Linked DNA regions of Homo sapiens: regions 1, 2 and 3 are each linked to region 4. The links come from fine-mapping of genetic effects on plasma protein levels. A gene starts in region 4. Each other region holds a variant in brackets. All regions are shown on one strand. Distances are from middle to middle. Region 1 overlaps PTPRS (protein tyrosine phosphatase receptor type S). Region 2 overlaps PTPRS (protein tyrosine phosphatase receptor type S). Region 3 overlaps PTPRS (protein tyrosine phosphatase receptor type S). Region 4 holds the start of PTPRS (protein tyrosine phosphatase receptor type S).

What was found. PIP is the posterior inclusion probability: the model's chance that the variant is causal. The UK Biobank Pharma Proteomics Project read protein levels with antibody pairs (Olink). The fine-mapping took linkage between variants from a reference panel, not from the people measured, so its PIPs are less certain.
Region 1: its variant is fine-mapped to the plasma level of the PTPRS protein (UK Biobank, PIP 0.99).
Region 2: its variant is fine-mapped to the plasma level of the PTPRS protein (UK Biobank, PIP above 0.99).
Region 3: its variant is fine-mapped to the plasma level of the PTPRS protein (UK Biobank, PIP above 0.99).

What each region holds. Positions count from the first base shown.
Region 1 is chr19:5,286,540-5,293,037 of GRCh38, forward strand. The region is part of intron 1 of PTPRS (protein tyrosine phosphatase receptor type S); the gene reads right to left. Among named protein-coding and RNA genes, the nearest start is that of PTPRS, 51 kb to the right of the region's middle. RefSeq lists a silencer at 6,455-6,498. The variant C/G (reference allele first, on the strand shown) is at 3,085.
Region 2 is chr19:5,294,004-5,302,144 of GRCh38, forward strand. The region is part of intron 1 of PTPRS (protein tyrosine phosphatase receptor type S); the gene reads right to left. It overlaps LOC105372253 (a long non-coding RNA gene), which reads left to right. Exons shown (of 2, transcript NR_187754.1): 2 at 144-680. Among named protein-coding and RNA genes, the nearest start is that of PTPRS, 43 kb to the right of the region's middle. RefSeq lists enhancers at 549-1,166, 1,167-1,783, 4,196-4,696, 7,217-7,717. The variant G/A (reference allele first, on the strand shown) is at 3,450.
Region 3 is chr19:5,268,717-5,276,857 of GRCh38, forward strand. It overlaps PTPRS (protein tyrosine phosphatase receptor type S), which reads right to left. Exons shown (of 38, transcript NM_002850.4): 3 at 5,483-5,628; 4 at 4,726-4,867. Among named protein-coding and RNA genes, the nearest start is that of PTPRS, 68 kb to the right of the region's middle. RefSeq lists an enhancer at 196-696. The variant T/C (reference allele first, on the strand shown) is at 3,333.
Region 4 is chr19:5,337,665-5,345,805 of GRCh38, forward strand. PTPRS (protein tyrosine phosphatase receptor type S) reads right to left here and starts at 3,148. Exons shown (of 38, transcript NM_002850.4): 1 at 3,000-3,148. LOC105372252 (a long non-coding RNA gene) reads left to right here. Exons shown (of 5, transcript XR_936279.3): 5 at 1-402. RefSeq lists an enhancer at 536-1,209 and a silencer at 3,076-3,355.

The DNA of each region.
Region 1 (6,498 bases), 52 kb before region 4:
GTCATAAAGGATCTCCCAGAAAGCTCCCTTGCCCTTTCTGCCACGTGAGGACACAGGGAGAAGATGCCTTCCACGAACCAGAAGATAGCCCTCACCAGACACCAAATCTGTGTTGCCTTGATCTTGGACTTCCCAGCCTCTAGAACTGTGAGGTACCAATTTCTGTCATTTATAAGCCACTTGGTCTGTGGTATTTGGCTACAGCAGCCCAAATGGACTAAGACAGCCTCCAACCACCAGCTAAACCCCAACCCCAGCATGAGTCCCCAACCCAGGCTGGGCCCCTGACTCAGACCAAGCCCCACACCAGGACTGAGGACCTGAGCCCCTGACTCAGACCAAGCCCCACACCAGGACTGAGGGGTGCTGAGCCCCAGTTTTCTCCAACTCACAGGCTGCTTCTCAGGAAGGAGGGGACTCCAGACTATGCTGCTGTCTGGCTCTAAAACCTGATCCCCCAGGTTATAAGACAAATCTCTTCCACACACCTGCCTGTCCCTGCCCTGCTCTAAGACCTCCCATGGCTCCCAGAGCCCCCAGGGGAAGCCACTCTTGCTGACTTCACTGTTTCCTCTCGCTTGGAGGTACAGCCAGGCCAGCCAAGCTCAGTCCCACCTCCAAGCCTTTGCTTCTGCTGTGCCCTCTGCCTGGAATGCTGTCCCCACCACATGACAGGTCTCAGCTTAGCTGTCACTTCCTCAGGAAACCCTTCTCTGCCCCTCAAAGGTCAATTCCCCCTACATTCTACATCCCGGAGCATCAGATATGACTAAGGTTATCCTCCGTGGTATTCACCCTGGTTCCCAAACTAAATGAAAAGATGTTAATCATTCAGCACGTTTCTCCCACAAGAACCTCAACTCCTCCAGGGCAGAAGGGTCCCTCGTCACATACCTTGAACCCTGGAATGGCCCCCTCCCCATCTCCCCAATCTCCACTCTGTCCAGAGCCAGGTCAGAGGGCCAGGGAGGGGAAGGGAGAGGCCCAAGGATAAGATCTTTGTTGCCTAGTCAGGCTGGCACCCATGCCAGCCCATGCCCTGGGCGGGTCCAGGCCGTGACCACAGGAACTGGTGGCGCATAATAACGGGGCAGCCCCTGTGATTCTGACTCCCAAAATACCCAGCTGCGGTCACCTCGCCCAGCCCTGGGGCGGTCCCAGGGGAAGGATGGGCGGGTAGTGGCCGGGTCACAGCCTAGGGTGACGAACGGGATTCGGGGGGCCTCAGTGTACATAGTTAGGCCACAGGCATACAGTCAGACCAGCCACAGAGAACGATGCCTGCTAAATCACGCCACAGACATACACAGATGCACACAGTCAAACCACCGATACACACCGACACACAGTCAGACTGCAAGCGGTTGCATATCTGCAAGAGACACAGAAACAAATGCATTCACACAGTCAGGCAGCAGAGACGGGCACACACACACACACACACACACACACACACACACACACACACACAATCAGGCAAATAAAACTTGCACATAGTCAGACCACAAACACAGACAGGCCCAAAATCAGACCACAGACATACACCAAGCCAGAAAAGATACACATAAGGGGTCATGGTGGGGCAGGCAGTACACATACACAGTTGGGTTACAGGGAACTGCAAACATGCAATTAGATCAGAGATACCTACAGGTGCACAAGCCGGTCAAAGTCACACGCAGACACAGGTGCCGGCACACTGTCAGACTATAGATAGGCCAGTCAGTCAGCAGACCACAGGTGCATGTGCCAGCCAGCCAAATAGAGATATGCAAAGTCAGATTCCCTTCCTACACACATATGTGCACACAGGCAGGCTACACAGACATGCACACACACAGTCAGACTCTAGGTACACCTTGCACACAACCAGTTGGGGACTGGGAAGATGAAGGAAATAAAGCCTAGAGCACAGTCCCTTACTCTGAGTCCCTGCCCTAGCCCTTTAAGAGCAAAAGTTGCCAACGAGGAAGGCGGTGGCCCCAGATGGAGAAAACAGCCTGTGGCCAGCTGGGGCTAGGGTGACCACAGCGGCTGGCCCTGCCCAGAAATGCACATCTGCTTGGCCACACTGAGGGGGCGAGGTCAGTCCCAGACCACTTTGAGCAGCTGGGCAGGCCTGCAGAGAGCCTCTGGGGAAACTGAGGCAGCATAGCAAACCTGAAGCTCAGAGGGCATGGGTAGGAGTCACTTGCACAGAGAGCCCAGGTGGGGCACATATATGGAGGGCCCCAGCCACAGCTGGCTCTCCCACATCCCACGAGGACCTCAGGGCAGCATCAGCCACCTTCTAAACCAGGCAGCCCTAATTACACCCTGGCTCCCACGGCAGAAGCCATGTTGGGCCCACACCTCCCTGATGTCTGCGCAGGATGGGGCTGAGTCAGGCACAGACAGGCAGGGCCTGGCCATGGACTCCCCCCAGATCCGCCACTCCAGCCTGTCAGGGGCAGGGACGAGGGGCTACAGTAACAGGAGCATTTGGGGCATTGGATGATGTATCAGGAATAGGGTGGTGGGAGGGGCCCAGGGAGTGGGGTTCAGACACTACCAAAGACAAAACATCCCGGGGTCCCTTAGGTGCCAATCCTCCCTAGGAGAACCTCCCATGATGGGGATAGGACCCTGCACACCCACAATCCTCCCACCGACTCCTGCTTCCACGAAAACCCCAGGCGTGAGGTCCTCTGCGAGGATTTGGGAGAGAAGATCCCTAGGTCCCATCAGCTCTGCCTTCAGAATCTGTCCCCAACCTGCCCACTTCTTACTCATTCTTCTGCCTCCACTTCTTCCAGCCCCATTGTCACCGACCTGGACAGATGTCGTCACCTCCATCGTGGTCTCCCAGCTCCCGCCCTTGTCCCTTGATCTGTTCCACTCACAGAAACCAGAAAGCATCTGCAAGCACCCGAGTCAGGGCTCGTCCTTCCTCTGCCCACAGCCCTCCATGGCTCCCACCTGCCTCGGGGTCAAAGCCCAAGTCCTTCCTGAGGCCCACCAGGTCCTGCACGACCTGCCCTGTCCCCTCCGTGCCCTCCCCTCCTCCCTTTCTCCCCCTCCTCCCTCTGCTCCAGCCGCATGGGC[C/G]TCCTTGCTATTTCTCCAACACCCCAAGTGCAGTCCAGTCCTGCCCCCGGGCCTTTGCGTGGGCCATTCCTGGATTTAATATTGGCTGAGGACCAAAAGGTGAATGGGAATTGGGGGCAAGGGTGTCTCTGCACTACAAACAGCATGAGGAAGAGCAAGGGGGCAGCACTGAGAGGTCCTAGGAGGGAGAGGGGGAGAGATGAGGACAGAGAGGTGCACATAGACTAGACCCACAGAGCAGCCAGGAGCCCTACGTGGCCCTGGGCAGGGAGGGAAATGGCCAGGTTGGTGCCAGGCCAACCCTCCACCATGTCCTCTTGCAAAAGGCAGCCTGGGCCACCAGCCTTGCCACTGCCAAGAAAGGGAAATTAAGTCAGGTGCAGTAATCTGCAAGCTCCCAGTAAATGACACGGCTGTTAGGAAAAGCATGGCAGCCCATGGTGGCCAGCGAGGCTGAGCCAGGGCTAGGGAGAAGGAGAGGGAGTGACCGCTGGACGCTGAACCCATGTGGGGCTCAGGGAGGGTCTCTGCCCGCCCCACCTGGCTCTCAGGGGCTGCACTGCCCACCACTAGCTCACGGCAGCTGGTCAGAGGCAGGCGCTTGACTTTTACAGATGAGGAAACTGAGGCTCACAGAAAAACAGGGACTCAGCCAAGGCCCCCAGCTGGGGTGGGACTTGGGTCTAGAGCCCACGTTTAATCTTGTGACTGTGTCTTTCTCTGGCCACTGCGAGATCTCTGGACAACTCTCTCTGGGACTGGTAGAGCCCGCTGGCCGCCTCTGGGGGCTCCCCCGCGGTGCTAATGGGGGGCGAGTGGGCACTCATTCCAACCAGGCGCCGGGGCATGGGTCACGCGATCTGGGAGCCGGCTTTGTGTGCCCACGCGGTCCAGGAAGCATAAAGGGGTGATTATGACCCAGGCCGGGCAGCAAACAGGCTGTGTCACCCGCACGAGGCGGGGGCTCCTCGGGCCAGAGGAGGCTCCCGGTGCCTCTCCCAGCCCAGGCTCCAGCTGTAGAGTCCATGCTGCCCTGTCCTGGGGCGGGAGTCTGGGGGCCTAGTCCTAACCCTCAGGGGCCATCCCATGGCCCCAGGGCAGGAGAAGCTGAGGCTGATTATGCCAGCAGTGGGACTCAGGGGAAAGACCCCTGACCCTGCACAATCTCTCCACCTTCACATCCACCCCCCACCCACAGCTCTCCCGTGCCACCGCCTGGAACGTCATTTCCAGGACTGGACCCTGGCCTCCAGCCTCCCTGGACACCTGGGTCACTCCCACATCCACTCAAGCAGGGACAGGCAGCGAGGGCCCCCCTGGGCAGCAAGCACAGGCTCTGTGGCCACTGGTGGGCTCAAGTCAGCTCTGGCCAAGCCACTGTCCCTCCCAGGGCGCCATTATCTCCCTATCAGGAAATGGGCTCAGGGAGGGGCTGGGTGGGGCTGGCCCTTCCCGGAACTGAAGTCCGGGGACCTGGCTTTAATTGACTATTGATTTGTATTGGGACGACGTGAAGGCTCAGGGCACTGTCCCCAGGGGTCCTGGTGGCCAGGAGTGGATGGGTGGGGCAGACAGGGAACCAGGCCCAGCCCTGGAGAGGGAAATCATTAAAGTCCACTGGGTGCCTCTGGGGTGCTGAGCCCCATTAAATGTTCTCTGTGTTTTCTGCTGTTTAACGGATTAGGAAACCGAGGCTCACCAAGGGTCCTGCATGGAGGAGGGGGCTGGGCTGGGTTAGGATTTGAGGCCAGAGCCCGGCTCTCAGTCGAGCCCAGAGTCCACATCCTCTGGGCGCCCAGGCTGCCAAAATTGCCCGTCAGTGTGTCCCCCATGCTGGCTTCATGGAACAACTTGAGACGCCAAGATCTGGGGGTACCCCTGCTTCTGCTCACACACCCACGGGGGCTCCCAGCTCCTGTGCTCGCTGCTCTGGGCCCTTCTTGATGTGACTGCATCCATCGTCTTCCCTACCCCCTCTTCCCGAAAGGTCCTGCAGTTCTCAGAATACACTGCCTCAGGTCTCTGAGCCTCTTCGCATGCAGGTCCCCCACCTGGCACACCCTTCCCCAGCTGGCCCATGGTCAGTTCATCCTGTAAGCTGCAGCCACGAGATGCCTCCACTCCAAGCTGAGCCCCGTTCCTCCTCTGCTCTAAAACCCTCCATGGCTCCCATCAACACGTATTAAAACTCAGACTGCTACCTCAGCCTCCAGAGCTGCCAGCCCGGCCTCTGCTGACCTCATCACGCCACAACCCCCCATGCCAGGCTTCCCTTGACACCTTGATCCCCCCCACTTGTGGCCCCTGGCTCCCACAGGGGTATTTACACACACTGTTCCTTCCACCCAGCATACCCTTTCACATCCTCATCAAATCTCAGCCCTCATACTTGTCCTCAGGGCTCAGCTGAGCTGTCACCTCTTCCAAGAAGCCCTCCTGGATGCCCCAGGGTGGATCAAGACCCATTCTGAGCTACCCCATCACAGCTGTGCTCCCACTGTGGGTCTGTCAACCCCCTGGATGGAAGCCCTTTTCCCACCCCAGGAACGTGGCAAAGCCCCTGCATGCACTGGATGCCTGCTGCATAACCAGCTCCACCTGGCACTTTATCCACAGCATCCCTGGCGTCACCTGGGTTTCAGAGGTAGAAACTGAGACCATAGACAGAGACCACCCCAGGCAATGGAGACCGAGACGGGGACAGCCTCGCATCCACCCTAGGGGGTCTGGCAGAGACTTAAAGGGTGGGGGTGAGGCTCTGGAAGGAACAGACAGCTGAGGCCAGCCTGGGTTCTGCAGGAAGCCCCTTGGGGAGGGTCACCAAACTCTGTCAGCTCAGTACTTGGGTCCTGGAACGGCTTAGAGCCCAGGGACGGGAATGGGTAAAAGAAAGGTACGAGCTGCCCTGACCGTCTCAGAAGACAACACCACAGGCCCCTCCCTGAGGCCAAGCCCCCCAGTTTCTTAAAGCCCCCCAACAAAGCACAGAGGCAACGTGGGGTCCACAGGCCCGAGAGGAGCGGAAACAAATGGATGGAGGTAAACTTCCTGCGATTTTCGGGGGTGGCTAAGAGCAGGGATTCCTGCCATGCACCCCCCACCGCTACCTGCCCCCTCTGCGGTCCTGTTGCCTCCTCCGCCTTCTGCGAAGTCCCCAGTCACAGCTCCCCCGGGCTGGCAGCGAAGGCTGCCCCGCGCCTGGCTCCGCCCCCGGGAGGTGGGGGAGGAGAGGGGGTGGGGGGAGGAGGTCGGGCTGGGGGCCAGGCGGGGGAGGGGACCCTGCGGAGCATAACGGTCTGGAGTTTTCCAAAGTGCAAGCGACGGGCCTGAATGGGGGGGCGCCAGGCAGCAGCAGGCCCAAGCTGGCCCTGGAGGGCGGCCGGCACGGTCAGGCCCGCGCTGGGCTGTGGGGAC
Region 2 (8,141 bases), 44 kb before region 4:
GAAAACTCCACCGGAGGGGCCCGGAATGTAGAAGCCCAGCGGGACCTGGGGGTCTGGGGACGGGACAGGGGCAGAGGCCGGGATGGAGACCCAAGGGCTCCCGCGTCTGCTCCCATCCCTGGAAAAAACGCCTCTCTTCCCAGCATTCGCGCTGAGGACGAAGCCCGAACGCCAACGCCAACGGGATGTCCTGGGCGCTCAGCTGCCATCAGCTGTGCTTCCTCAGGCCACCGGCCACGGCTCTAGGAGGCAGACCCCACCATCACCCCCATTCTGCAAAGAACGGAGCCGAGAAAGAGAGAGAAACGGCTGCCCACGGCCGGGAAGAGCAGGAATTGGAACCAGGGTTTGGGTCCAGAGGAGGAGCTCTCACCACAGCGCTGCTGGAGGCCTGGGGCCCCCGGAACTGAGGATATATCATGAATAATTTCAAGCCCCTTGGGTTTATCTAGGTACAGGGCCATCCTGAAGACAGACGCCCCACTCTCTAGAAGCCATTACTCAGTGGGGCAAAGGACGTGGGCTTTGATGGGAGACACACAGGCGGCTGTGAGAGCCCAGCAGAAACAATTCCGCTCCCACGGCTCCCGTCCATGCCCTCCCACTGCTACCTCAGTGGCTGGCTCCCATCTCCTTCAAACATCGAATAAATGCCTCCCTCACTGGGGGATACCACACTGCCCCCTTCCCTTACCATGCCTCAGTTTCCCTCCTCTGCAAAATGGAGCATGGAATCGCCCCGCCCCATCTCCAACAATAGGTGGCCTAGTCCACAAAGCACCATGCACAGTAGGTGGTCTGTGAGTGTCTGCACACAGGCTCCCTGCCTGCCCCTTTGACACAGAGCACACAGGAGGTGCTAAACACAGGATGCCGTGACGTCCCCCGTCCCACGCAGCCCCATCCTCGACGAGGTACACAGTAGGTGCTTCATGGAGGAGGCTGCCTGGTGCCCCAGCATCACCAAAGGCACACAGGAGGTTCCCTGTGTCAATGTAGGCGTAGGAGCAACCAGCGTGACCTCCCCAACTTGGCTGGGCACACAGTGGGCCCTCAGGAGCAGAGTAGGCACCTTGCTTGTATCTGTGGCAAGGCACGGGGCTCATACAGACTCGAGTTTGAATCCAGGGATGCCCCGTGTGTCAAGAAAGCACCCGTACCTCTCGGGCCGACAGTTTCCCCATCTGCCACATAAGCCAAGCACTGAACAGGTGCTCAATGAATCCACACTGTCAGGAGGCTTGGGGCTGCATGACCTGCAGCATACAGGCCTGGCTCTGGGCTGCCCAGGACTCGGGACGGCAGACAAGGGCTTGCCAGCCGCTTCCCAGCCAGTCCTGCCCTCTCTGGGCCTCTTGTCCATGTCTCTGTGGAGGCAGACTCTTGCCCCTATTCCACAGTGGTGACTGCAGTTGGCAGGGGACACAGCCACCCCCGAGGGGCTGGGGGAGGTGGGCCAGGTGCCCTCCCCCTTGGCTGGGTGGCCCCATCAGCACAGAGCCCTACATGCGCCTAGTCCCCGGGTCTGCCTCTCCCACCAGACTGTGACCTCAGGAGGCAGAGCAGGATTTGTCTCGGTCACCCAGTGTCCCCAGCACCTAGCACAGGTCCACAGTACAAAGGAGGTTCTCAGCAAACATTTGCACAATCAGGCCCAGCCTCACCCAGGAGAGCCCCTCCGACCTTATTCTCCTCCAAAGGCCACACTGTGTGTGCCCTTGTCATAAAGCAGGCATCTTCACCTACCCTTTTTTCAAGACAGGGTCTCGCTCTGTTGCTCAGGCTGGAGTGCAGTGGCACCATCATGGCTCACTCTAGCCTCAACCTCCTGGGCTCAACCTCCTGGGCTCAAGTGATCCTCCCACCTCAGCCTCCTGAGTAGCTTGGACTACAGGCACATGCCACCACGTCTGGCTAATTTTTGGATTTTTTTGTAGACATGGGATCTCCCCATGTTGCCCCGACTGGTCTCGAACTCCTAGACTCAAGTGAACCTCCTGCCTCAGCCTCCCAAAGTGCTGGGATCACAGACATGAGCCCGTAATAAGGTTAAGCCCAGCCTACCCTTTTCTAAACAAACATTTCCAAGCCCCGATGCCAGGCACAATCCTAGACACACAGTGACCAAGACTGACAAAGATCCCTGCCCTCAGGGTGTGGATGCTCTAAAGAGGGTGACACATGAGAAACAAAAGAAATCAAATCCACTGTGGGTCAGATGGTGGTAAGGGCCCTGAGGATGATTGGGTTCAGGGTTGTAGGATGAGGAGGGAGGATCGCCTGAGGCCAGGAGTTTGAGACCAGCCTGGGCAATATAGCCCATCATCTCTACAAAAACTTTTAAAAATTAGCTGGGCCTGGTGGCGCATGACTGTGGTTCCAGCTACTTGGGAGGCTGAGGGCGGAAGCATCGCTTGAGGCCAGGAAGTTGAGGCTGCAGTGAGCTAGGATGGTGCCACTGCAGTCCAGCCTGGGCGACAGAGCGAGACTCTATCTCTAAAAAAATGTAAAATAAAATAAACACAGGATAGGAGAGAGGGGAGGTGACATGCGAACAAAGACCAGGAGAAGGTGAGAGAAAGTGAAAGAGGATTCCAGGCAGAGAGCTCAGTCCATGCAAAGGCCCCGGGGCAGCACTGCACCTGGCGTGTTGGAGGAATGGCGAGGAGGCCAGTGTTGCTGGAGCAGAGTGAGGAAGGGGAGACAAAGAGGAGGGGAGGGGAGGGAGGGGAGGGAAGGAATGGGGACAAGATGCGCACGGCCTCAGAGGCCTCCAGGAGGAATTGGGCTTTGACCCTGAGGAAGGTGGGAGCCATGGAGGGCTGTGGGTAGAGGAAGGCCCTGACTCAGGTACTCACAGACATGCTCAGCTGCTGTGGGGAGGGCAGACTGTGGGGGATGACTAGGCTGGGGCTGGACTGGGTAGAGGATGAGGGAGAAAGGCACATTCTAGGCAGACCCAATAGAATTTTCTAAACGGCTCATTTGGGGATGTACAGAAAAGAGGGGACTCAAGGATGACTTCTGGGTTTTTGGCCTGAGCACCCTAAAGGTTAAGGGTGGCCACCTCCAGGAAGCCCTCCCTGATTGCCCCGCCTACTCCGTGCCCTTGGGGGCTGACCCCTGGACCCCTCCAAAAACGTTCCATTGATATGTCCTCTGTATACACCCAGGAGGCGGCTGCCCTTGGGGAGGAACACGGGGCTGGATCACGTCAGCTCCCACAGCTGGGACGTTGGGGGGTAATTTTTTTCAAAATAACTTTTCTTCTAATTATAAAATAGGCGCGTGCAGCAGAAAATTAGGTAAAATCAGCATAAAGAAGAAAATAAAAGTTACCCACAATCCATCCCTCGCCTAGAGAGAAACTGTTTCATGCGGCCGTTCTCATTCATTCTTTCCCTGTACATGTGCTGAGCACCTACTGTGTGCTGTGCTGAGGACACAGT[G/A]GTAAGCATGATGGAACCAGCACTCCTGCCCCTGTTGGGGGGCACAGACTAGTTGCAGGGGGGATGGACACCCACAGAAAAACAAACACTGTCAATAACATAAGGCCGGGCAGTGCTAAGAGATGCCAAAAATAATTAAATAAACCACACTGCAAGGCTGCAAAAACTGGGGGGTCCCTGGGGGAGCCTCTTAGAAGTGGTGATAATTGCATTTACACCTGGAGGAAGAGAGCAAATCAGACATACAAACACCTATGACAACAGAGTTGCAGGCAGGAGGAACAGCAAATACGATGGCCCTGAGGCTAACCATTTCCTTCCAGTCTTTCTTTTCTTTTCTTTTTTTTTTTTTTTTTTTGAGACAGAGTCTCGTTCCATCGCCCAGGCTGGAGTGCAGTGGCACGATCTCGGCTCACTGCAACCTCTGCCTCCCGGGTTCACACAATTCTCCTGCCTCAGCCTCCTGAGTAGCTGGGATTACAGGCGCACACCACCACGCCCGGCTAATTTTTTGGGTATTTTTAGTAGAGACAGGGTTTCACTATGTTGGCCAGACTGGTCTCAAACTCCTGACCTCATGATCCGCCCGCCTCGGCCTCCCAAAGTGTTGGGATTACAGGCGTGAGCCACAGCGCCCGGCCTCCTTCCAGTCTTTCTTCTATGCATACGAATGGGTGCTTTTCTTTCGTTCGATGGGGATCACCATTAGCAGACCATGTTCCAGTGTCCGGGTCACAGAATTTAATCAATTCCCACTTGTTTATCCCATTATGTCCCTTATAAACAACACTGTGAGGGACATTCTTAGACACAGCTGTGTCCCTTCGTCTCCTGAAGAAACTTCCAAAGCAGGGGTGACTGCATTGGGATGTTCTCAAGCCTTTAAACCTTCCCTGATGGGGAACCCTCAGATAAAACCATACCCTTGACCGGGGCAGGACCCCCTCCCCCAGCCTGTCTGTCCCACCTCCTTCATATTTGGCACCAAAACCCCCAGACATTTCATTTAGGTACAAACTCTGTACTCTTGGCTGTGAGAGCCAGAGAGAAACTGGTTGGGCAGCTTCCTCTCAGCTTCCCTGCCCTGGTCTTGCCCATGCCCAAGGCTCCCGCCTCCTACCTAGCACAGCATTCATGACCCGGGGCATGGGCGGGTGCCAACCAGCCAGGAGCCCGCCTCACCCATGTTCACATCACAGCCCTGGCGCCGGGTCTACCCGCCAGCCGCACCGCAGCGGGCATGATGCCCACCACAGGCACGCCCCAGCTCCATGTCTGCCTTTTTCACCTGTCCGCCCCCGCAGGCCAGGCTACCTTCCCCTTCCTGGAAAATGTGTGACACCTTCAGGCATGGCTGGATCCAGCAAAGCCATTCCTCCCATGTCTTCCCCAACTCTGCTGATAGCAGCTCTGTCCTTCCAGGGGCTCAGGCTAGAACCTGGAAGCTGGCCCTCACTGCTTTTCCTCCCTCACCCCATATGGTGTTGGTCTGGAAATACTCTCACGTTTGTCTCCTAAATTTCTACTCACTTTGTCCATCTTTCTCCATATTCCCTTCCCAACCCATCCAGCCTGATCATTGCCTGCTCGGACCAGCACAGTCACCTCTGCCCTGGTCCCCAGCCTCCCACCCTCGCCCTCCAGTCTGTCCTCCCCACAGCACCCACTACATGGTGCCGGTGTGCACCTGAGTCAGGTCCCGTCCCTCCTCTGCCCACAGCCCTCCATGGCTCCCACCTCCCTCAGGGTCAAAGCCCAAGTCCTCCTGGTGGCCCACAAGGCCCTGCATGACCTGCTCCATCTCCTCCCTGCCCTCCATTCCTCCCTCTCTCCCCCTCACTCTGCTCCAGCTACATGGGCCTCCTCGCTGTTCCTCCAGCACCCCAAGTGCAGTCCTGCCTCAGGGCCTTTGCACAGGCTATGCCTCTGCCTGGAACACTGTTCCTCTACATTTTCTTGTCACTTTTCTTCTCACCCTTCCATTCTCCCTCAAGGATCACCTCCTCAGAAATGCCCTGGCTGACCACCTGGCTCAAGCAGCACCCATCACCCATTACCCATTATTTTACTGTCACCTGAAATTCTCTGTCTTTACTCACTGTCTGGGTCTGAGTTATCAAATACAAGAACCACTAGTGGCTGGGTGTGGTGGCTCACGCCTGTAATCCTAGCACTTTGGGAGGCCAAGATGGGTGGATCTTCTGAGGTCAGGAGTTTGAGACCAACCTGGCCAACACGGTGAAACCCCATCTCTACTAAAAATACAAAAATTAGCCGGGCATGGTGGTGCGCACCTGTAATCCCAGCTACTCGGGGCTGAGGCAGGAGAATCGCTTGAACCTGGGAGGCGGAGGTTGCAGTGAGCTGAGATCGCGCCATTGCACTCCAGCCTGGGCAACAAGAGTGAAACTCTGCTTCGAAATAAAATAAAATAAAGGAAAAGAAAAAGAAAAAGGACCACTAGCCACATGTGACTCATTAAACTTAAATGAAGAAAAATTAAATAGGCCGGGTGCCATGGCTCCCACCTGTAATCCCAGCATTTTGGGAGGCCAAAGTGGGTGGATTGCTTGATGCCAGGAGTTTGAGACCAGCCTGGACAACATGGCAAAACCCCATCTCTACTAAAAACACAAAAATTAGCTGAGTGTGGTGGTGCACACCTGTAGCCTTAGCTACATGGGAGGCTGAGGCATGAGAATTGCTAGAACCCAGGAGGTGGACACTGCAGTGACGTGAGATCATGCCACAGCACTACAGCCTGGGCAACGGGGCGAGACTCCATCTCAAAAAAAAAAAAAAGAAAAGAAAAAGAAAAATTAAATAAAATTTAAAATTCTGCTCCTCAAGTCACACCGGCCACATTTCCAGTGTGGCTCATGGTCAGAGTACTGAAACCCACATAGCACACTTCCATCACTGCAGAAAGTTCTGTGGCCAGCTCTCCCAGCAACAAAGGGGCCAGGTCAGTCTTGGTCACTGCCAGGGTCGAGTACACAGTATATGCTCAATAAATGCTTTCTAAATGAAGAAGTGGGGCGGGTGTGGTGGCTTACACCTGTAATCCCAACACTTTGGGAGGCCGAGGTGGACAGATGACTTGAGCCTGGGTTTTTGAGACCAGCCTGGGCAATATAGTGAGACCCCATCTCACCAAAAAATACCAAAATTAGCCGGGCATGGTGGTGCATGCCTGTAATCCCAGCTACTTGGGAGGCTGAGGCAGGATTGCTTGAGCCCAAGAGGCAGAGGTTGCAGTAAGCTGAAATTGTGCCACTGCACTCCAGCCTGGGTGATAGAACAAGACTCCGTCTCAAAAAAAAAAAAAAAAAAGAAAAGAAAAGAAAGAAAAAGCGGTAAAATATATATAACAAAAAAATTTCCATAAAAAATATAGACATGAAAGAGTGAAGACATCAATGGCTCAGAGGCCTTGCAGAGACTAGAGGTGCTGGCCAATAGCACAGAGGTCAGCAGGTGCCATCTGCAGCCACAGTACCCTGGCCACTCTCACTCCCTGGGCAGCCACGTTAGGGTATCCAAACTCTACATTTCCAACATAGTGACATGGAAAGCCAGAAAGCAAAAGCCACATTGCTGGGCTTTGAACCTGGATCTCCCTGGCTGGCCAGCAAAGCATCCTCTGGGAGCTCTTGCTCCAGCCCCAAGGGCAGAAACTTGGAAAAGGCTTCCAGGCCACAGCCGGAGTCAGCTCTGCAGCGCCAACATGCTGACTCAGCCAAAAGTGGAGGACGGGGGAGGGACAGAATGGCCGGTCCCCCCGCCAGGCCCCATTGCCAGCCTGGGCCCCTGCCAGGCCGTCTCCCACCTTGAGCCAGCGTCAAGTGTATTAAAGTTGTTGCTGTTTTTTTTTTTTTTTTGAGACAGAGTCTCGCTCTGTCACCCAGGCTGGAGTACAGTGGCACCATCTCGGCTCCCTGCACCCTCTGCCTCCCAGGTTCAATCGATTCTCCTGCCTCAGCCTCCCGATTAGCTGGGATTACAGGTGCCCACCACCATGCTTGGCTATTTTTTGTATTTTTAGTAGAGACAGGGTTTCACCATATTGGTCAGGCTGGTCTTGAACTCCTGACCTCAGGTGATCCACTCGCCTCAGCCTCCCAAAGTGCCAGGATTACATGCATGAGCCTCCACACCTGGCTGTAAATGCATTTAATGGATCTGGCCACATCCTCTCTGCAAGATGCCTGCTGGTCTCTCCTTCAAGCGCATCCTCCCCCTCTACACCCACCAGTCCCCAGGAAGGGTGATCACAGTCTCCCCCCAATCCTCCCCTCCTTGCTCATGACTCTGCCATGTCCCAATACCCCCCATTGATTGGATGATGGATGGAGTCTCACTCTGTCGCTCAGGCTGGAGTGTAGCGCGGCAATCTCAGCTCACTGCAACCTCCGCTTCCTGGGTTCAAGTGATTCTCCCACTTCAGCCTCCTGAGTAGCTGGGGTTACAGGTACATGCCACCACACCCAGCTAATTTCTGTATTTTTAGTAGAGACGGGGTTTCACCATGTTGGCAAGGCTGGTCTTGAACTCCTGACCTCAAATGATCCGCCTTGCCTTGGCCCTCCGAAGTGCTAGGATTACAGGTGTGAGCCACCACACTTGGCCCCCCGATTTAATCATTCATGTAGGCTGGGCACGGCCAGCCTTGGGAGGCCAAGGCAGGAGGAT
Region 3 (8,141 bases), 69 kb before region 4:
ATCTCCTCCAAGCCTTTTCCATAGAGGGGGAAACGGAGGCACAGGCAGTCACACACTTGTCCCAGGTCATACAGCCAGCATGTAGCAAGGATTTGAACCCAGGCCTGGCTGAGCTCAGAAGAAGCTGAGCAGGACCGGCTGCAAAAGCCCTCCACTCAACCAGGTCTGAACCCATCGGGGCCCTGAAGGGGGCATGGCTGGATGCCGTCTGAGGCAGTTCAGGCCTCTTGTCCATCCTTCCTGGGCCAGGGACCTGGACGACCTTGAAAGTGGCTCTGATTGGCTACTGATGACATCATCGGAGATGAGGGCCAAAATGACTGGGCCTCACTCAATTGGTCTTGGTGCCCACAGCTGGGTCTGTCGGCATCCCCCTGTGTGTCTATGCATGCTCGTGTGCCTACGAGGGAACCCTGTATTTCATTCATGCGTGGGTACATGTGTGCCGCATGTATGTGCTCACGCTTGCCCGTGCCCACGTGTCCACACGTGAGCAATTCCCGTGTGTATGTGGCCCCGCAGGGGTCCCCATAAGCGTGTGTGGACAGCAGCCAGCCAGGGTGCAGGGGGAGGTCTCGGCCGCCTGACGCTACCGAGAACACCTAATTAAACAAAAACGTACATCGCGAACCACACTCTGCCCAGTTCCTCGGAGTTTAATTAAAACAACAGTGCAGGAGGCGTGTGTGGGGTCCACAATCAGATGGCAGAGGAGGAGGAAGGCAGGGAGTGGCCCTGGCAGTCCAGATGGTCCCCCACCAACTGCCAGGGACTGGCCGGAGGTGCCCGGAGCTCAGGGCTGGTGGCAAGGTGGGTGGGATCGGGTCAGGGTATCCAAGGCCCCGGGCCCCAGCAGGAAGAATGAGCTCCCAGCCCAAGCAGGCCCTTCCAGGCAGCCGGAGAGGAGAGAGAAAAAGGGTGTGGGCTCGGCACGGTGGCTGACGCCTATAATCCCAGCACTTTGGGAGGCTGAGGAGGTGGATCACCTGAGGTCAGGAGTTCAAGACCAGTCTGACCAACATGGCGAAACACTGTGTCTACTAAAAATACAAAAATTAGCTGGGCGTGCTAGTGGGCGCCTATAGTCCCAGCTACTCAGGAGGCTGAGCCAGGAGAATTGCCTGAACCCAGGAGGCGGAGGTTGCAGTGAGCCAAGATCACGCCATTGCACTCCAGCCTGGGTAACAAGAGCAAAACTCCATCTCAAAAAAAAAAAAAAAAAAAAAGAGTGTGGATGGGCGCAGGGGGCATTTTTTTCCCAGACTCCGGGGGACCGGGCAGTTGATGGCTTCACAGCTTGTCCTTTTAATACCCTGAGTGCTCAGAGTGCAGGCTGGCTTGGGGCAAGAGAAGGCAGGTTGTTCTGTCCCAGCCTGGGAAAGGTCAGGGCAAAATTATCTGCTAGGAAGAGCAGGGCGGGCCACGGTGGGCCTGACTCCGCCCCCGCTCCTTCCTCCATCCCCCAGCAGGATGGGATCCAGGACCCACGCAAATGAAATTGTGGGGTCTCTTGTTAGAAAAGTATTAAGACTTTCCAGACCACAATAGCGAGCTTTTATCTTTTCTTCCCCCTCCCCCCCACCCCCCTTTTAGAGACAGGGTCTTGCTCTGTCACCCAGACTGGGGTGCAGTAGCATGATCATAGCCCACTGTAGCCTTGAACTCCGAGGCTCAGGCGATCCTCCTGCCTCAGCCTCCTAAGTACTTGGGACTATAGGCAGGCCCCATTACACCAGGCTAAGTTTTACATTTTTCTTTTTGTAGAGACTTGGACAGTGAGGCATGGGGTCTCTATGTTGCCCAGACTAGTCTCAAACTCCTGGGCTCAAGTGATCCTCTTGACTTGGCCTCCCGAAGTGTTGGCATTACAGGTGTGAGCCACGGCATGTGGCCAGCAGCAGAGCTTTAAAAAGCACGGGGCCTTTCTTTTTTTTCTTTTGAGATGGAGTCTCCCTGTGTCACCCAGGCTGGAGTACAGTGGCGCAATCTCAGCTCACTGCAGCCTCCGCCTCCCGGGTTCAAGCAATCCTCCTACCTCAGCCTCCCAAGAATCCGGGAGCTAGGATGACAGGTGCACACCACCATGCCTGGCTAATTTTTGTATTTTTAGTAGATTTGGGGTTTCACCATGTTGGCCAGGCTGGTCTCAAACTCCTGACCTCAAGTTGTCCACTTGCCTCGGCCTCCCAAACTGCTGGGATTACAGGCCAAAGCACAGGGCCTGAGGGAGGGATCCTGGATGACTGTACAGGTCACTCGCCTGTGATGCCAGTCCCAGTTTCATGGGACCAGAGTCTGAAATCGAGTACTACTAGGGCCGCTGTGATAACCCCTCCCAGGGCTCCAAGCTGGTCACAGCTGGGCTGCCGTGGAGGACATTGGAATAGCCTCATCTTGGGAAGCCACATGCAGGGGTCACCTCCCAGCTAATGGCTGGCAGTGGCTCATATACATGACTGGGATGTCTCTGCAGGTGACAGGTGGAACCCACTCACCTGAGGGCTGCAGAAGGATTGGTAACAAGCATCTTACTAAACCAGAATCCTAACAGTGATGAACACAGTAACGGGGAAGTAGAATTGACCAAATATGGCATTGTGCTAATCTTGCTCCCTGTATCACTCACTCATCTGGTTCACGGAATTACCCCTTGTGGTGAGAACCATTATTACCCGATTTTTTTTTTTTTTTTTTCCCTGAGACGGAGTCTTGCCCTGGTCGCCCAGACTGGAGTGCGATGGCGTGATCTCGGCTCACTGCAACCTCCACCTCCCAGGTTCAAACGATCCTCTCCTGCCTCAGCCTCCCGAATAGCTGGGATTACAGGTGCCCACCATCACGTTCAGCTAATTTTTGTATTTTTAGTACAGACAGGGTTTCACCATGTTGGCCAGGCTGGTCTCTAAGTCCTGACCTCGCGATCTGCCCGCCTTGGCCTCCCAAAGTGCTGGGATTACCGGCGTGAGCTACCGCGCCCAGCCATTTCATTTTTATTCATTCATTCATTCATTCATTCATTTATTTTGAGACAGAGTTTCGCTCTTGTCGCCCAGGCTGGAGTGCAATGGTGTGATCTCAGCTCACTGCAACCTCCGCCTCTTGGGTTCAAGCAACTCTCCTGCCTCAGCCTCCTGAGCAGCTGGGATTACAGGTGCACGTCACCTCACCCACCTAATTTTTGTATTTTTAGTAGAGACGGGCTTTTACCATGTTGGCCAGGCTGGTCTTGAACTCCTTGACCTCAGGTGATTCACCCGCCTCGGCCTCCCAAAGTGCTGGGATTACAGATGTTTGAGTCCCTGTACTCAGCCCGACTTTAGAGATGAGAAAAT[T/C]GCAGCTCAGACAAGTTCATTAACCTGCCCTAGGTCACACAGCAACCAAGTGGCAGCCAGGACTTGAGCTCCACAGGCTGGGCCCAGTGCTAAGACCAAACTGCAGTGGAGAAGGCAGCACAGAGTGGTTGGGCAAGGGTTTGTAGGCGGCTGTTTGAAATGATGCTGAACAAAAATTTGTTCACAAAATTGCTTCCTCATTATAAAACAGCATCACTCAGACAGCCCCCTATAAACCCCTTGCGACTTGTTCAAGAAATGCATTTAGGCTGCATGCAGTGGCTTATGCCTGTAATCCCAGCACTTTGGGAGGCTGAGGCAGGCGGATCACTTGAGGTCAGGAGTTTGAGACCACCCTGGCCAACATGGTGAAACCCTGTCTCTACTAAAAATACAAAAATTAGCTGGGCGTGGTGGCATGTGCCTGTAATCCCAGCTACTTGGGAGGCTGAGGCAGGAGAATCGCTTGAACCTGGGAGGTGGAGGTTGCAGTGAGCTGAGATAATGCCACTGTACTCTGGCCAGCGCAACAAAGCAAGACTGTCTCAAAAAAAAAAAAAAAAAAAAAAAAAAAAAAAAAAAAAAAAAAGAATTGCACCTAAACAAGACCAGCAAGCAGCACTGCAGGCCCGTGTGAATGTCTGGGGAAGTGGGGCAGCAGTTTCTGCCTACCTAGCATCCGTTCATCCTTTATTTTTTGTAGAGATGGGGTCTCGCTATGTTGCCCAGTCTAGTCTCACGTGTGATCCTCCCACCTCAGCCTCCCAAAGTGCTGGGATTGCAGGTGTGAGCCACCATGCCCAACCCTGTTTATCTTTATTCCTTTGGGGGAACCACACTCACTCTTGGCTCCAGGTAGGAGTCTAGCCAATCAGAGTGTTTGTTCCTCCTGAGCCACAGTGATTAGTTCAGGGAAGGGAATGGGATCCAAGTTCATTGGCAGTGGGGGAAGTCTCACTAAGGATATCATCAATACAGAAGGAAACAAAGCCAAGAGACAGAGAGTGAGCTCTGAGAAAATTCAATGAGCCCCTGGATCCAGCTGAACCTGAAGCCAGCCACTCCATGGAATTTTAATTCTGCACATCAATTACCTTTCTCGCTTGAACCCATCTGAGTTGGATCAGCCTTTTGTCATCAGAAGCACATGATGAAGATTATAAATTAGGATGATTCTAGTCTCTCAATTCCTTTCTTTCTTGCAAAGGCACAATAAATCCCCACCAGTAGGCGCTGGGCCCTGAGACTGTTACTGGTTGGATAAGGGAGATCAAGGTCCTCCCAAAAAACACAAAGCAGGAGGGTTTGGGGTAACTTTCATGTATTCCTTTTGTGCTTGTCCCCAAAGCCCAGGGCCCAGTTTATCCTCCGCCCGCCCTGAGGAGCCCAATACCTCGGAGGACAGTAAGCTTGGCATGGACTGTGATCTCCCCAACCGAGTTCTGGGCCACACACTCGTACACGTTTTCATCCCGCGGTGTCCTCAGCGGCTGGATCCTCAGCACTGCCCCTGCACTCTCATCAAACTCAATCGTCTGCCATGGGCAGGGGAAAAAAGAACAGAGTGAGGCTGGGGTCCCAGGAAGGTTCCTGTCTAGGCTGGGCTAGGCTGGGCTGTAGGGGAATGGCAGTCAGCCCCATGATCCTGGGGGTGACTGGGAGAATTGCTGCAGGCTGAATGTGCACGTGTGTCGGTGTCCAGTATAAATGCGCCGCAGACAGGGACCAGATTTGGGTACATATAAGAACAGGGTGTTGTGTGCATGTGTGAGGGTGACAAATGTCTGCAAGCCCATGTGACAGGCATGCAAAGGCATGTGAAGACATGCGGAATGTGTCAATGTGCACGTGTGATCATGGGCGTGTATTGAGAGTTGTAAAGTTCCTTCTGTGTGCAGTGGTGCTGTGTACACTGCACTGTGAAGAAGACTCAGAGAGGGCAGGGCTTTGCTTGAGGCCACACAGCATGGAGCTGGTAGAGCAAGTAAGGCGGGCAGGGCCCTGGCTGGAGGCTGCGCAGCCATGCTTGCTTGGCCACAGATGATGCTCCACCTGGGGAACGTGTCCACGAAGTCCACTGTGGCTGAGGTGCTGTGGCCCTGCCTTGGGGGAGCATTGACCCCAGGCTGCCTCCCCCTACCCCAACTCACCTCAAAGCGCTGAGAGTTGACCTTCTTGCCCTTCTTGTTCCAGGTCACTCGTGGCTTGGGGTCACCCGTGGCCTGACACACGAAAGAGGCCACACCCCCCGACACGCCGATCTGGTCCTTGGGTTCTTTGATAAACCTGGGGGGCTCTGGGGATACAGTGGAAAGAAGGGGGGGCGCTGATGGGTCCAGGCATCTGGCTAGGATACCAAGGAGCCACGAAAACCTGCATTCCATGCCCTGCCCACGGAAGTGCCATGTGGCCAATGAAGAGAGGAGGAGGAAAGCAAGGATGACAACAAACACCCTCCCACCTCGCCCCCCACCACGGCACCCATGGGCACCCAGGTGCCCACATATCCCCACTTCCACCTGCAACAGCCACACCTGCTCACACACAGTGGATACAACCTCACCTGGGCACACCTGCTCAGACACAGTGGATACAACCTCACCTGGGCACACCTGCTCAGACACAGTGCCACTGGGAAAGATGGAAGGGGAAACCTGTGAGATGCTGGGGTCCCTAAATTCAGCACCTGAACCCCCCCTCCATGGTGACCAGCCAAACCCTGGAGGGCCCTGAAAGCACTTGCCAGAATAACTTGGTCTAATTTCCTGGTGAGACATGTGGGGAAACTGAGGCACCCAGCATGGGGGCGGGGGGTGACCATGGGACATGAGGTCAGAGCCAGTATTTGAACCCAGAGCTCCAGCTTCTTGGGAGGCATCCAGGAGGTGGCTGGACACGAGGGGTCAGTGCCCAGGAGAGTGCTCTGAGCTGGAGGCAGGAGCTCAGAAAGGGGAAGTAATATTTAATATTTAACCTCTCCAACAGCATGGAGAGGCAGTGCCATCCTGATCGTCATTTTCTTTTCTTTTTTTTTTTTTTCCAGACAGTGTCTCACTCTGTCGCCCAAGCTGGAGTACAGTGGTGTGATCTCGGCTCACTGCAACTTCTGCCTCTCAGGTTCAAGCGATTCTCCTGCCTCAGCCTCCCGAGTAGCTGGGACTACAGGTGCCCACCACCATGCCCGGCTAACTTTTTGTATTTTTAGTAGAGATGGGGCTTTACCATGTTAACCAGGATGGTCTCGGTCTCCTGACCTCATGATCTGCCTGCCTTCGCCTCCCAAAGTGCTGGGATTACAGGCATGAGCCGCTGCACCCAGCCTTCTTTTCTTTTTCTTTTCTTTTTTTTTTTCCTGAGAGATAGGGATTCACTCTGTCACCCAGGCTGGAGTGCAGTGGCACGGTCTTGGCTCACTGCAGCCTAGACCTCCCAGGCTCAAGCAATCCTCCCACCTTGGCCTCCCAAGTAGCTGGGACTACAGGTGAAGGCCATCACATCTGTAACCCCAGCACTTTGGGAGGCTGAGGCCGGAGGATCACCTGAGGTCAGCAGTTCGAGACCAGCCTGACCAACATGGTGAAACCCCGTCTCTACTAAGGAAACAAACATTAGCCAGACATAGTGGTGGGCACCTGTAATCCCAACTACTTGGCAGGCTGAGGCAGAAGAATTGCTTGAACCTGGGAGATGGAGGCTGCAGTGAGCCAAGATCATGGCACCACACTTCAACCTGGGCGACAGAGTGAGACTCCGTCTCAAAAAACAAAAACAAAAACAAAAACCAGCCTGGGGTCTCACTATGTTGCCCAGGCTGGTCTGGAACTCCTGGCCTCAAGTGATCCTCCCACCTTGGCCTCCCAAGTAGCTATGTTGTCCAGCCTGGTCTCAAACTCCTAGCCTCGAGCAATCCTCCCACTTCAGCCTCCCAAGCTGCTGGATTTATAGGCGTCAACCACCATACCCAGCTCTGCCATCCCCATTTTACATGTGAGGAAACTGAGACACAAACCAGGCAAGGGACTTGCTTTGGCTGGACATGCACAGCCAGGCGGTGGCTGAGCTGAACGTGCTCCTTTGAACCAGCCTGGCTTTCACATCCACATTCTTCACCCTCCATGACGATCTGATGTATTCATTCAGTCTCTGCAATAAAGCCTGGAGTAGGAGTGTTTTTGTTTTTGTTTTTGTTTTTTGAGATGAAGTGTTGCTCTGTCACCAGGCCAGAGTGCAGTGGTGCCATCTCGGCTCAATGCAACCTCCGCCTCCCAGGTTCAAGTGATTCTCCTACCTCTAACTCCTAAGTAGCTGGGATTACAGGCACGCACCACCACGCCTGGCTAATTTTTGTATTTTTAGTAGAGATGGGGTTTCACCATGTTGGCCAGGGTGGTCTTGAACTCCTGACCTCAAGTGATCCACCTACCTTGGCCTCCCAAAGTGCTGGGATTACAGGTGTGAGCCACTGCGCCTGGCCTGGAGTACGTGTTTTTTTTTTGTTTTTGTTTTTTTTGAGACAGAATCTCACTCTGTTGCCCAGGCTGGAGTGCAGTGGTGCGATCTCGGCTCACTTCAAGCTCCGCCTCCCAGGTTCACACCATTCTCCTTCCTCAGCCTCCCAAGGAGCTGGGACTACAGATGCCCGCCACCATGCCCAGCTAATTTTTTTGTATTTTTAGTAGAGATGGGGGTTTCACCGTGTTAGCCAGGATGGTCTCGATCTCCTGACCTCGTGATCCGCCCGCCTCAGTCTCCCAAAGTGCTGGGATTACAGGCGTGAGCCACCAGGCAGGTGAGTATGCCTATTTTAAC
Region 4 (8,141 bases):
GGCTCTATGCGACCCAAAGAAGAAAAAAATGGGTGCACAGTGATGGCTCCAGGTCTCCCCACCCAGATGCTACCACGAAATCCCTGGCATCCACGAAGCTTCCCCCTGTTCCATGGTGGAAATTGGGGGAAAATGGACTTGTGTCTCCAAGCAGGGTCCATGGACACTGGACGATGCCTGAAATCCCCTGGGAGGCAGGGAAAAAAGGCGCACTGAACGCTCAACCGGGGTATAAGGAGTGATTTTTTTTTCTCTGCTGGCAGCAGGCAGGAACCTGGGGTTTGAATGTCCCCTTCTCTGTCGCCACCTCACGCAGACTTCAGAGGCTCTCAAGGTTTCCTGGAGAGGGGGAAATCGTCCCCGGAGCTGACCTGCCAACCAGTAGCACCCTCCAGCGCCTCAGCCGGGCCACGCCAAAATGACCTGTCACCCATCTCCCGCGGGGAGTGGGGAGCGGGCCAGTCCACCGCCTCTTGGGACGGCATCTCTGGACGGCCACTGACAGTACCAGTCTCTGTCACCCCCTGGGGGGTTAGGGGCAATGTCATCGGCCAGGGTGGCAGAAATAGAAAAGTGCGTGAGCTCACCAGGCAGCCTGGGTCTCCTGCGACGTTTTGTTTGCCTGAGCCCAATTAGAACAACTCTCAGGATGATGGAGTATGGCGGGCGGTGGCCCCCAGGGGGCTGGGAGGCCTAGCCCCCATGCAGAAGTGCACCGTCATGATGAGGGTGTCCCCCGGGCCTGGGGAACAGGGCAGGACCCTGCTTCCCGGAGGGAAATAATGAAGACTCCGCCAGCCTGCCAGCCAGAAAGAGATGCCCCACGGAAGGCTTTGTGGAGGGCAGCGGGGGGGTAGGGGAGGGATGCCCAGGTGGGGACTCAGTCAGGCCCAAGCTGGGGGGCTGTGGGATTTGAGGGCGGGAAGCAGCCGCCCCCAGCCCCAGCTGCCTGCCTTCCACCGCCAAAATATCAGCTGGCAAAGAAAGAAGAGCAGAGGGACAGAAGGCAGGCGCGATTGGCAGGGGGAGGGGGGCACAAAGGAAGGGACCCTGGGAGGGGGAGGGGACTTATGCAAATGGCAGATTCGACCAAGTCCCTGGGCCATTAATAAACGCTCCAGCAGCTGCCGCTGGTATCGCAGGAGCAGAGGAGCGGGATGGCTTCCTTCTCCCGGGCGAAAGGCGGCAGAAAGAGGGAAGAAGGGCGCCCCAGACAAAGAGGCGCCGTCACCCTCTGCACCCCAAGGACAGCAGCGATAGGGGGCCACCCAGAGGAGGCCAGAATCCCAGCAGCCAAAGTCCGGGTGGTGGCGGACGGGAGCCCGGAGCGTGTGGGTCCCTGTCCTTGGGACCCTAGGGGTCTCTTCCTGCCTCCTCCGGCTTCTAGGTATCATCCCTGCTGCTCAGCCGGGACTCCGACACCTCGGACACCCGCTTCACTAGCCGCGGCTGCCGGGATGTGTTTTTAGGGTCTCGGCCAGAGGCAGGAGGACCCCATGCTCAGAAGGGGGCTCCCCTAGATTGTGACGGGGGGGGACAGGGGAATCCCAGCTGAGCCCAGAAGGGGGAGGCAAGGCACCCCCAATGAGGCTCTGGGAGGTTTGTTAATTTGGGGGAATGAGGTCCCAGGAGGTGGCTGGATTTGAGGAAGGGTTGCAGAGGAAGGGGCGTTCTTGGAAGCTGCATATTTAGGGAGACGAGAAGACGATTTGAGACTGGGGAAAGAGGGTCAACCGAAGAAGGAGGTCCCAGATTTGGGGCGGGGGGTGTGGCTGAAAAAAAGATTCCCAGTTTGTGGGAAAGGTTCCCTGATTTGAGGATTCTGGAGAGAAAGCGGCCGAAGGGGAGTTCCCCAATTTGGGAAGGGGGGGAATTGGTGGGAAATGTCCAGGATTTGTAGGGGGAGGTCCGAAGGGGAGGATCTTAATTTTAGGAGAGATTCCCATAAAGAGAGGTGAACTTGGCCGCAACCTGGCCGAACCCTCGCACCCACGGCGCGGGCACTCTAACCTGGGGGGCTCCCCTCAGGGCACGCCCCGCGCCCCCTTTAACCCAGTGCCGACGGCCCCGCCCCCGGTATGACGTCACCTCCCCTCCCCCCGCAGCCCCCGGGGGCTCCCGGGGCGTGCGGAACCCGCGGGGCTGGCGGTTCCAGGGGCGGCTTCCCCACTCTCGGGATCCCCACGGGGCCCCCAGCGCGGAGGGGAGACTGGGGTGCTGGGCGTGCGCGTCTGCCTGCCAGAGCCCCTGGGGCTGGGGGCTGAGGCTCGCCCCTGGGTGGGGAGGCTGGAAGGGGGCGCCGAGGCCGCAGAAGGGTGGGGCAATGCCCGAGTGCCGGAGGGGCGACCTCCCATAAGGCAACGACAGGGCCCGGAGTGTTCCAGGGGAGACGGCGTAGACTAGGGGGTCTCCAGGGGAGGGAGACCCGGAGAGGGAAGGCGGCGGGCGCAGCAGCCCTGGAGCCACCCCGCCTGGAGCCACCCGTCCCGGCTCCTCTCCGCTCCGGGGCGCCCGCATGCCCCCCATCCCCCGGCACAGCGCCCCCTGCCTCCAGGACCCGCCCGGGGACCCGGGCCGGGCGCCGCCGGGGCCGGCACCGGCTCCGCACACACGCGCGCCCCCCTCCGCGCCTCTGCCCCGCCCGCAGCCCGGGGTGGTGCAGCCGGCGGCGCTGGGCAGCTTCCAATGCCGCGCTCTGGGCGCTTCCAGCCCAGCCCCCTCCCACGCCGCGGACGAAGCCCCCCCAGCACCCCCTGCCGAGCGCCCCCAGCGCGGCCCCGGCCCTGTCCCTCGGGGCATTGTCCGGGCGCAGCTACCGGGGCGCAGCGGCTGGGCGTGCAACTGGCTGCAGCCGAGCATCCTCCGAGCACAATGGCCGTGCAGGCTTCCCCGGCACAAAGCCGGCGCGCTGCCCACTCGGCTGCCTCCGAGACCCCCCTTGGAGCGCCTGCATTTTTTTTTCCTCTAATCCATGATTTTATTTTTTTTTTTGGCTTTACCTGGAGGCTGGCTGGGCTGGGCTCCCCCGGCTCTGCCCCGCTTCACATCGTGGCTGTTGCATGGGATCCGAGCGGAGCCCGAGCGCCAGCGGCTCGCGGCGTGCGCGCGCCGGCCGGGCTGCCGGGCGGGCGGCGCGAGGACACTCACTGCGGCTCGCGCTCCCCTAGCTCCCGCTCGCGCGCCCCCCCAGCCGGTGACGTCATCCCTTCCGCCAGCGCCGCCGCCGCCGCCGCCGGGTCGGGGGCAGGGCCGGCCCGTGCGCGTCACTGCGCAGCCGCGCGGCCGCCACGCCCCCCGGCCAATGGGACGGCGCAGCGCGGTCACGTGGCTCCGGGGTGTTTAAAGGGCCGCGGGAGCACGTGGGGCGCGGGGCTTCGCGGGACACGTGGGCGGCTGGGGTGGTGGTGGTGGTGGCGGCTGCGGCGGCGGCGGGAAGGGCCCCTGGGGCTACTGTCCGTGCGGGAGCCCCAGCGTCCTGGGTGCAAAGGGCATGGCACTTTCTGTGCGCTGCCCTAAACTGTGCCACGGCTCCCCAGTACCCTTGGAATAAAATCCCGCCTCCTCTCTGCAGCTCGCCGTTTCACATTAGCGCCCACTACCCTGTCCCCTCCCCCCCACCATGTCAATGATCCAGAAAAACCAGCTGCTCCTTCTTTGCTTTTTCAGAGATGGGGTCTGCCACCTGGGCCTCAGTACAGTGGTATGATCATAGCTCACTGCAGCTTCAAACTCCTGGGCTCAGGTGATCCTCCCGCCTCAGCCTCCTGAGTAGTTGGGCTCGGGTGATCCTCCCGCCTCAGCCAGCTTCTTACAGTTCCTCTAACTTGAGCATCCAAGAACTTCCCCTTCTCATCTTTCCAATTTCTGCTCAAATAAGCAGCGCCTGGGAGAAGCCCTCCCTGACAACAGCTACCAGCCACGCCCCACTCCACTCTATCCCATTATCCCGGTTTGTTGTTGTTGTTGTTGTTTGTTTGGTTTTGAGTCGGAGTCTCACTCTGTCGCCCAGGCTGGAATGCAGTGGCGTGATCGCGGCTCACTGTAACCTCCGCCTCCTGGATTCAAGCTATTCTCCTGTCTCAGCCTCCGGAGTAGCTGGAATTACAGGCGTGCTGTCACCACGCCTGGCTAATTTTTGTATTTTTGTTAGAGACAGTGTTTCACCATGTTGGCCAGGCTGGTCTTGAACTCCTGACCTCAGTGATCCGTCCACCTCGGCCTCCCAAAGTGCTGGGATTACAGGCGTGAGCCACCGCGCCTGGTCCCATTATCCCGTTTTTATTCTAGTTACACTACAGTGTGGCTCCAGAGATCCCTATTGTAGGTTGAACACATGAATGAATGGATGATGGAGCACTTCTTATAGAGTAAGCACTTTACACAGGTCTCACCTAATTACCATCCCCTGCTTCCCTGGAGTCAGGACGAGCCACAGTTGGAACCCAGCTAAAACACTGATTTGCTGTGTGAGGCCCGGAGCCTCACTTTCCCCATCTGTAGAATGGATTTGCCTCTGGATCTCAGCTCTCATCTGTAAAATGGGGCAAGGTAGCCCCTGCTCCTAAGGAGGGTGTGATGATGAATTGCTATAATGTGGCAGCCTGGCTGCCATTGGTGCCTGAAGATGGAATAATAAGAGAAAAGAGGCCGGGCCCGGTGACTCATGCCTGTAATCCCAGCACTTTGGGAAGCCAAGGTGGGCAGATCACTTGTCAGGAGTTCGAGACCAGGCTGGCCGACATGGCGAAACCCCATCTCTACTAAAAATACAAAAATTAGCCGAGCGTGGTGGCAGGTGCCTGTAGTCTCAGCTAGTTGGGAGGCTGAGGCAGGAGAAACTCTTGAACCCGGGAGGCGGAGGTTGCAGTGAACCAATATCACACCACTGCACACTCTAGCCTGGGCGACAGAGTGAGACTCTCAAAAATAAGGAAAAAAAACAGAGCGGAAGTAAATAAAAGGGGGATATTGACAAAGGTAAGGGGGTTGGAGGGCTCACAGCCACCAAGCAAGATTGCACATCAGTCCTTGTGTTTTGATCATGTCGAAAGCATTTATTTCCTCAAGGCACATATTTGGAGAAGGCCTGGTGCCCAACAGAGGAACTCAACTTTAGAATTGGTTTTTTTTTTCCTCCAAAATTGTTGATTCATTCATTCCAGGCCACAGATGCAGATAAACAAAAAGCATTAACCCGGGGAACAAAACGATAAGGCGGAAGTCATAAACAGGAGAAAAGAGAGGAGATAATGAATAATTTAACAAGGAACCTAATTTAAGCTTGGAGTTTCCCAGCGGCCAGTGCAGCAGCCACGTTTGCAGAGCCTACTTTGTTTTTCTTCCTGGTGGGGTGACCCTGATCTGACCGTTTACAATCTGGCCTCAGTTTTCTCATCCAAGCAATGGGAACACGATCCCATCTTGAAGGATCAAATGGGGTGGTCTGTGCACAAATGCTTAGCGTGGTTTCTCACGCACAGTGGGTGCTGAAGCCTTGGAGAATTGGTGGAGACACAGTAAAATGAGATGGCTGATCGTGGAGGGGCTGATCATGGCACGAACCCCAGCCCAGTGACCTGTTTGGGAGGTGACCTCAAACAAGTGGCCGCAACACTGTAAGCCTAGCTGTCCCCATCTAGAAAAGGGGGACAACCACTAGTACCTCTGAGGGATTTTGTGAGCAGTCAAAGAAAACAGATTAAATACATCAAAAACAGAATTAAAATACATTGTAGCAGCTGGGCGCGGTGGCTCATGCCAGTAATCCCAGCACTTTGAGAGGCCAGGGCGGGTGGATCACCTGAGGTCAGGAGTTCGAGACCAGCCTGGCCAACATGGCAAAACCCTGTCTCTGCTAAAAATACAAAAATTAGCCAGGTGTGATGGTGCATGCCTGTAGTCCCAGCTACTCATGAGGCTGAGGCAGGAGAATTGCTTGAACCTGGGAGGCAGAGGTTGCAGTGAGCTGAGATCACACCACTGCACTCCAGCTGGGCAACAGAGTGAGACTCCCTCTCAAACAAAAAATACGTTGGCCAGGTGCGGTGGCTCACGCCTGTAATCCCAGCACTTTGGGAAGCCAAGGCAGGTGGATTGCCTGAGCTCAGGAGTTTGAGACCAGCCTGGCTAACATGGTGAAACCCCATCTCTACTAAAAATACAGAAATTAGCTGGGCGTGGTGGCGCGTGCCTGTAGTCCCAGTTACTCAGAAGGCAGGAGAATCGCTTCTACCCGGGAGGCAGATGTTGTAAGTGAGCTGAGCGCCACTGCACTCCAGCCTGGCAACAGAGTGAGACTTTGTCTCAAAAAAAAAAAAAAATACATTCCAGCATGTGCTTGGGAAACCCATCTGTTCAGGCCATGCATCCGGCCCCGCTCCCAGGTTGTTTGAAGTGCTGTGGACAACAGAAGTAAACAAAACAGTCTTTAAAATCCCTGGAGTTGGCCAGGCACTTTGGCCCAGCACTTTAGGAGGCTGAGGCGGGAGGATGGCTTGAGCCCAGGTATTTGGGACTAGCCTGGGCAACATAGGGAGACCCCGTCTTTACAAAAAGTTTTAGAAGTTAGCTGGGCATGGTGGTACACATCTGTGATCCCAGCTACCTGGGAGGTTGAGGTAGGAGGATCGCTTGGATGTGAGAGTTTGAGGCTGCAGTGAACTCTAAGCACGCCACTGCACTCCAGCCTGGGCAACAGAGCAAAAATTCCTGGAGTCAACAGTGCTGGGAGGAGATAGGAAATATCTTATTTAGAGTAAAAGCTTAAGCTCTTCCCACAGCTCACCAAGCTCTGCATAACCTACCCCCTTCCCCGCCCTCTGTCACCCTCGCTCACTCTGCTCCCGCCACTCGGGCCTCCTTGCTGTGCCTCCAACACACCAGGTAAGGTCCTGCCACAGAGCCTTTGCACTGTCTGTTCCCTCTGACCAGGATGCTGTTCCTCCTGCTTTTCTCAAGGCCAATTGTTCCTCCTTGCTCTTCGAGTCTCTGGGAGACCCTCCCAGACCATCTCACTGAGGTGACCACATGATCATCTTTACTTCAGTATCAGATTATTTATCATGATTTGGAATGATTTTATATTTTGGCCGGTTTGTGTGTTTCCTGCGTGTCTCCCTACTCTAGCTGTGCCTCAGTTTGCCTGTCTGTAAATGGGGATAATAATAATCGTGGTCCCTGCCGGGCGTGGTGGCTCACGCCTATAATCCCAGCACTTTGGGAGGCCGAGGCGGGCGGATCAGGAGGTCAGGAGATCGAGACCATCCTAGCTAACATGGTGAAACCCCATCTCTACTAAAAATACAAAAAATTAGCGGGCGAGGTGGCAGGTGCCTGTAGTCCCAGCTACTCGGGAGGCTGAGGCAGGAGAATGGCGTGAACCCGGGAGGTGGAGCTTGCAGTGAACTGAGATCACACCACTGCACTCCTGCCTGGGCGACAGAGCAAGAGTCCGTCTCAAAAAAATAAAAAATAAAAAATAAATAATATTGGTCCCTTAGGGCTGTCTGGAGGGTGAAATGAATCACACTATGTCAACCACCTGCCACCAGGTGCAGACTCACAAAAGGATTTCTGGTAAGTGTGGTCACTGTAGGCTGGGCGCGGTGGCCCACGTCTGTCATCCTAGCACTTTGGGAGGCCGAGGTGGGCAGATCACCTGAGGCCAGGACTTCGAGACCAGCCTGGCCAACATGGCGAAACCCTGTGTCTACTAAAAATACAAAAAAATTAGCCAGGCGTGGTGGCGGGTGCCTATAATCCCAGCTACTTGGGAGGCTGGGGCAGAAGAATCGCTTGAAACTGGTGGGCAGAGGTTGCAGTAAGCCGAGATCGCGCCATTGCACTCCAGCCTGGGCAATAAGAAACAAAGTCCGTCTAAAGAAAAAAAAAAAAATGCGGTCACTGTAAATGAGAAAACTATGGTTGCCTAGCCAGAAACAAAAGATGATCCTACAAGTCGATACAACAAGAACAGAAAATTATAAAATTCTTTTTTTTTTTTTTCCAAGACAGGGCCTCACTCTGTTACCCAGGCTGGAGTGCAATGGCACAATCACAGCTCACTGCAGTCTCAACCTCTTGGGGCTCAAGTGATCCTCCCAGCTCAGCTACCCAGGTAGCTGGGACGAAAGGCACAGACC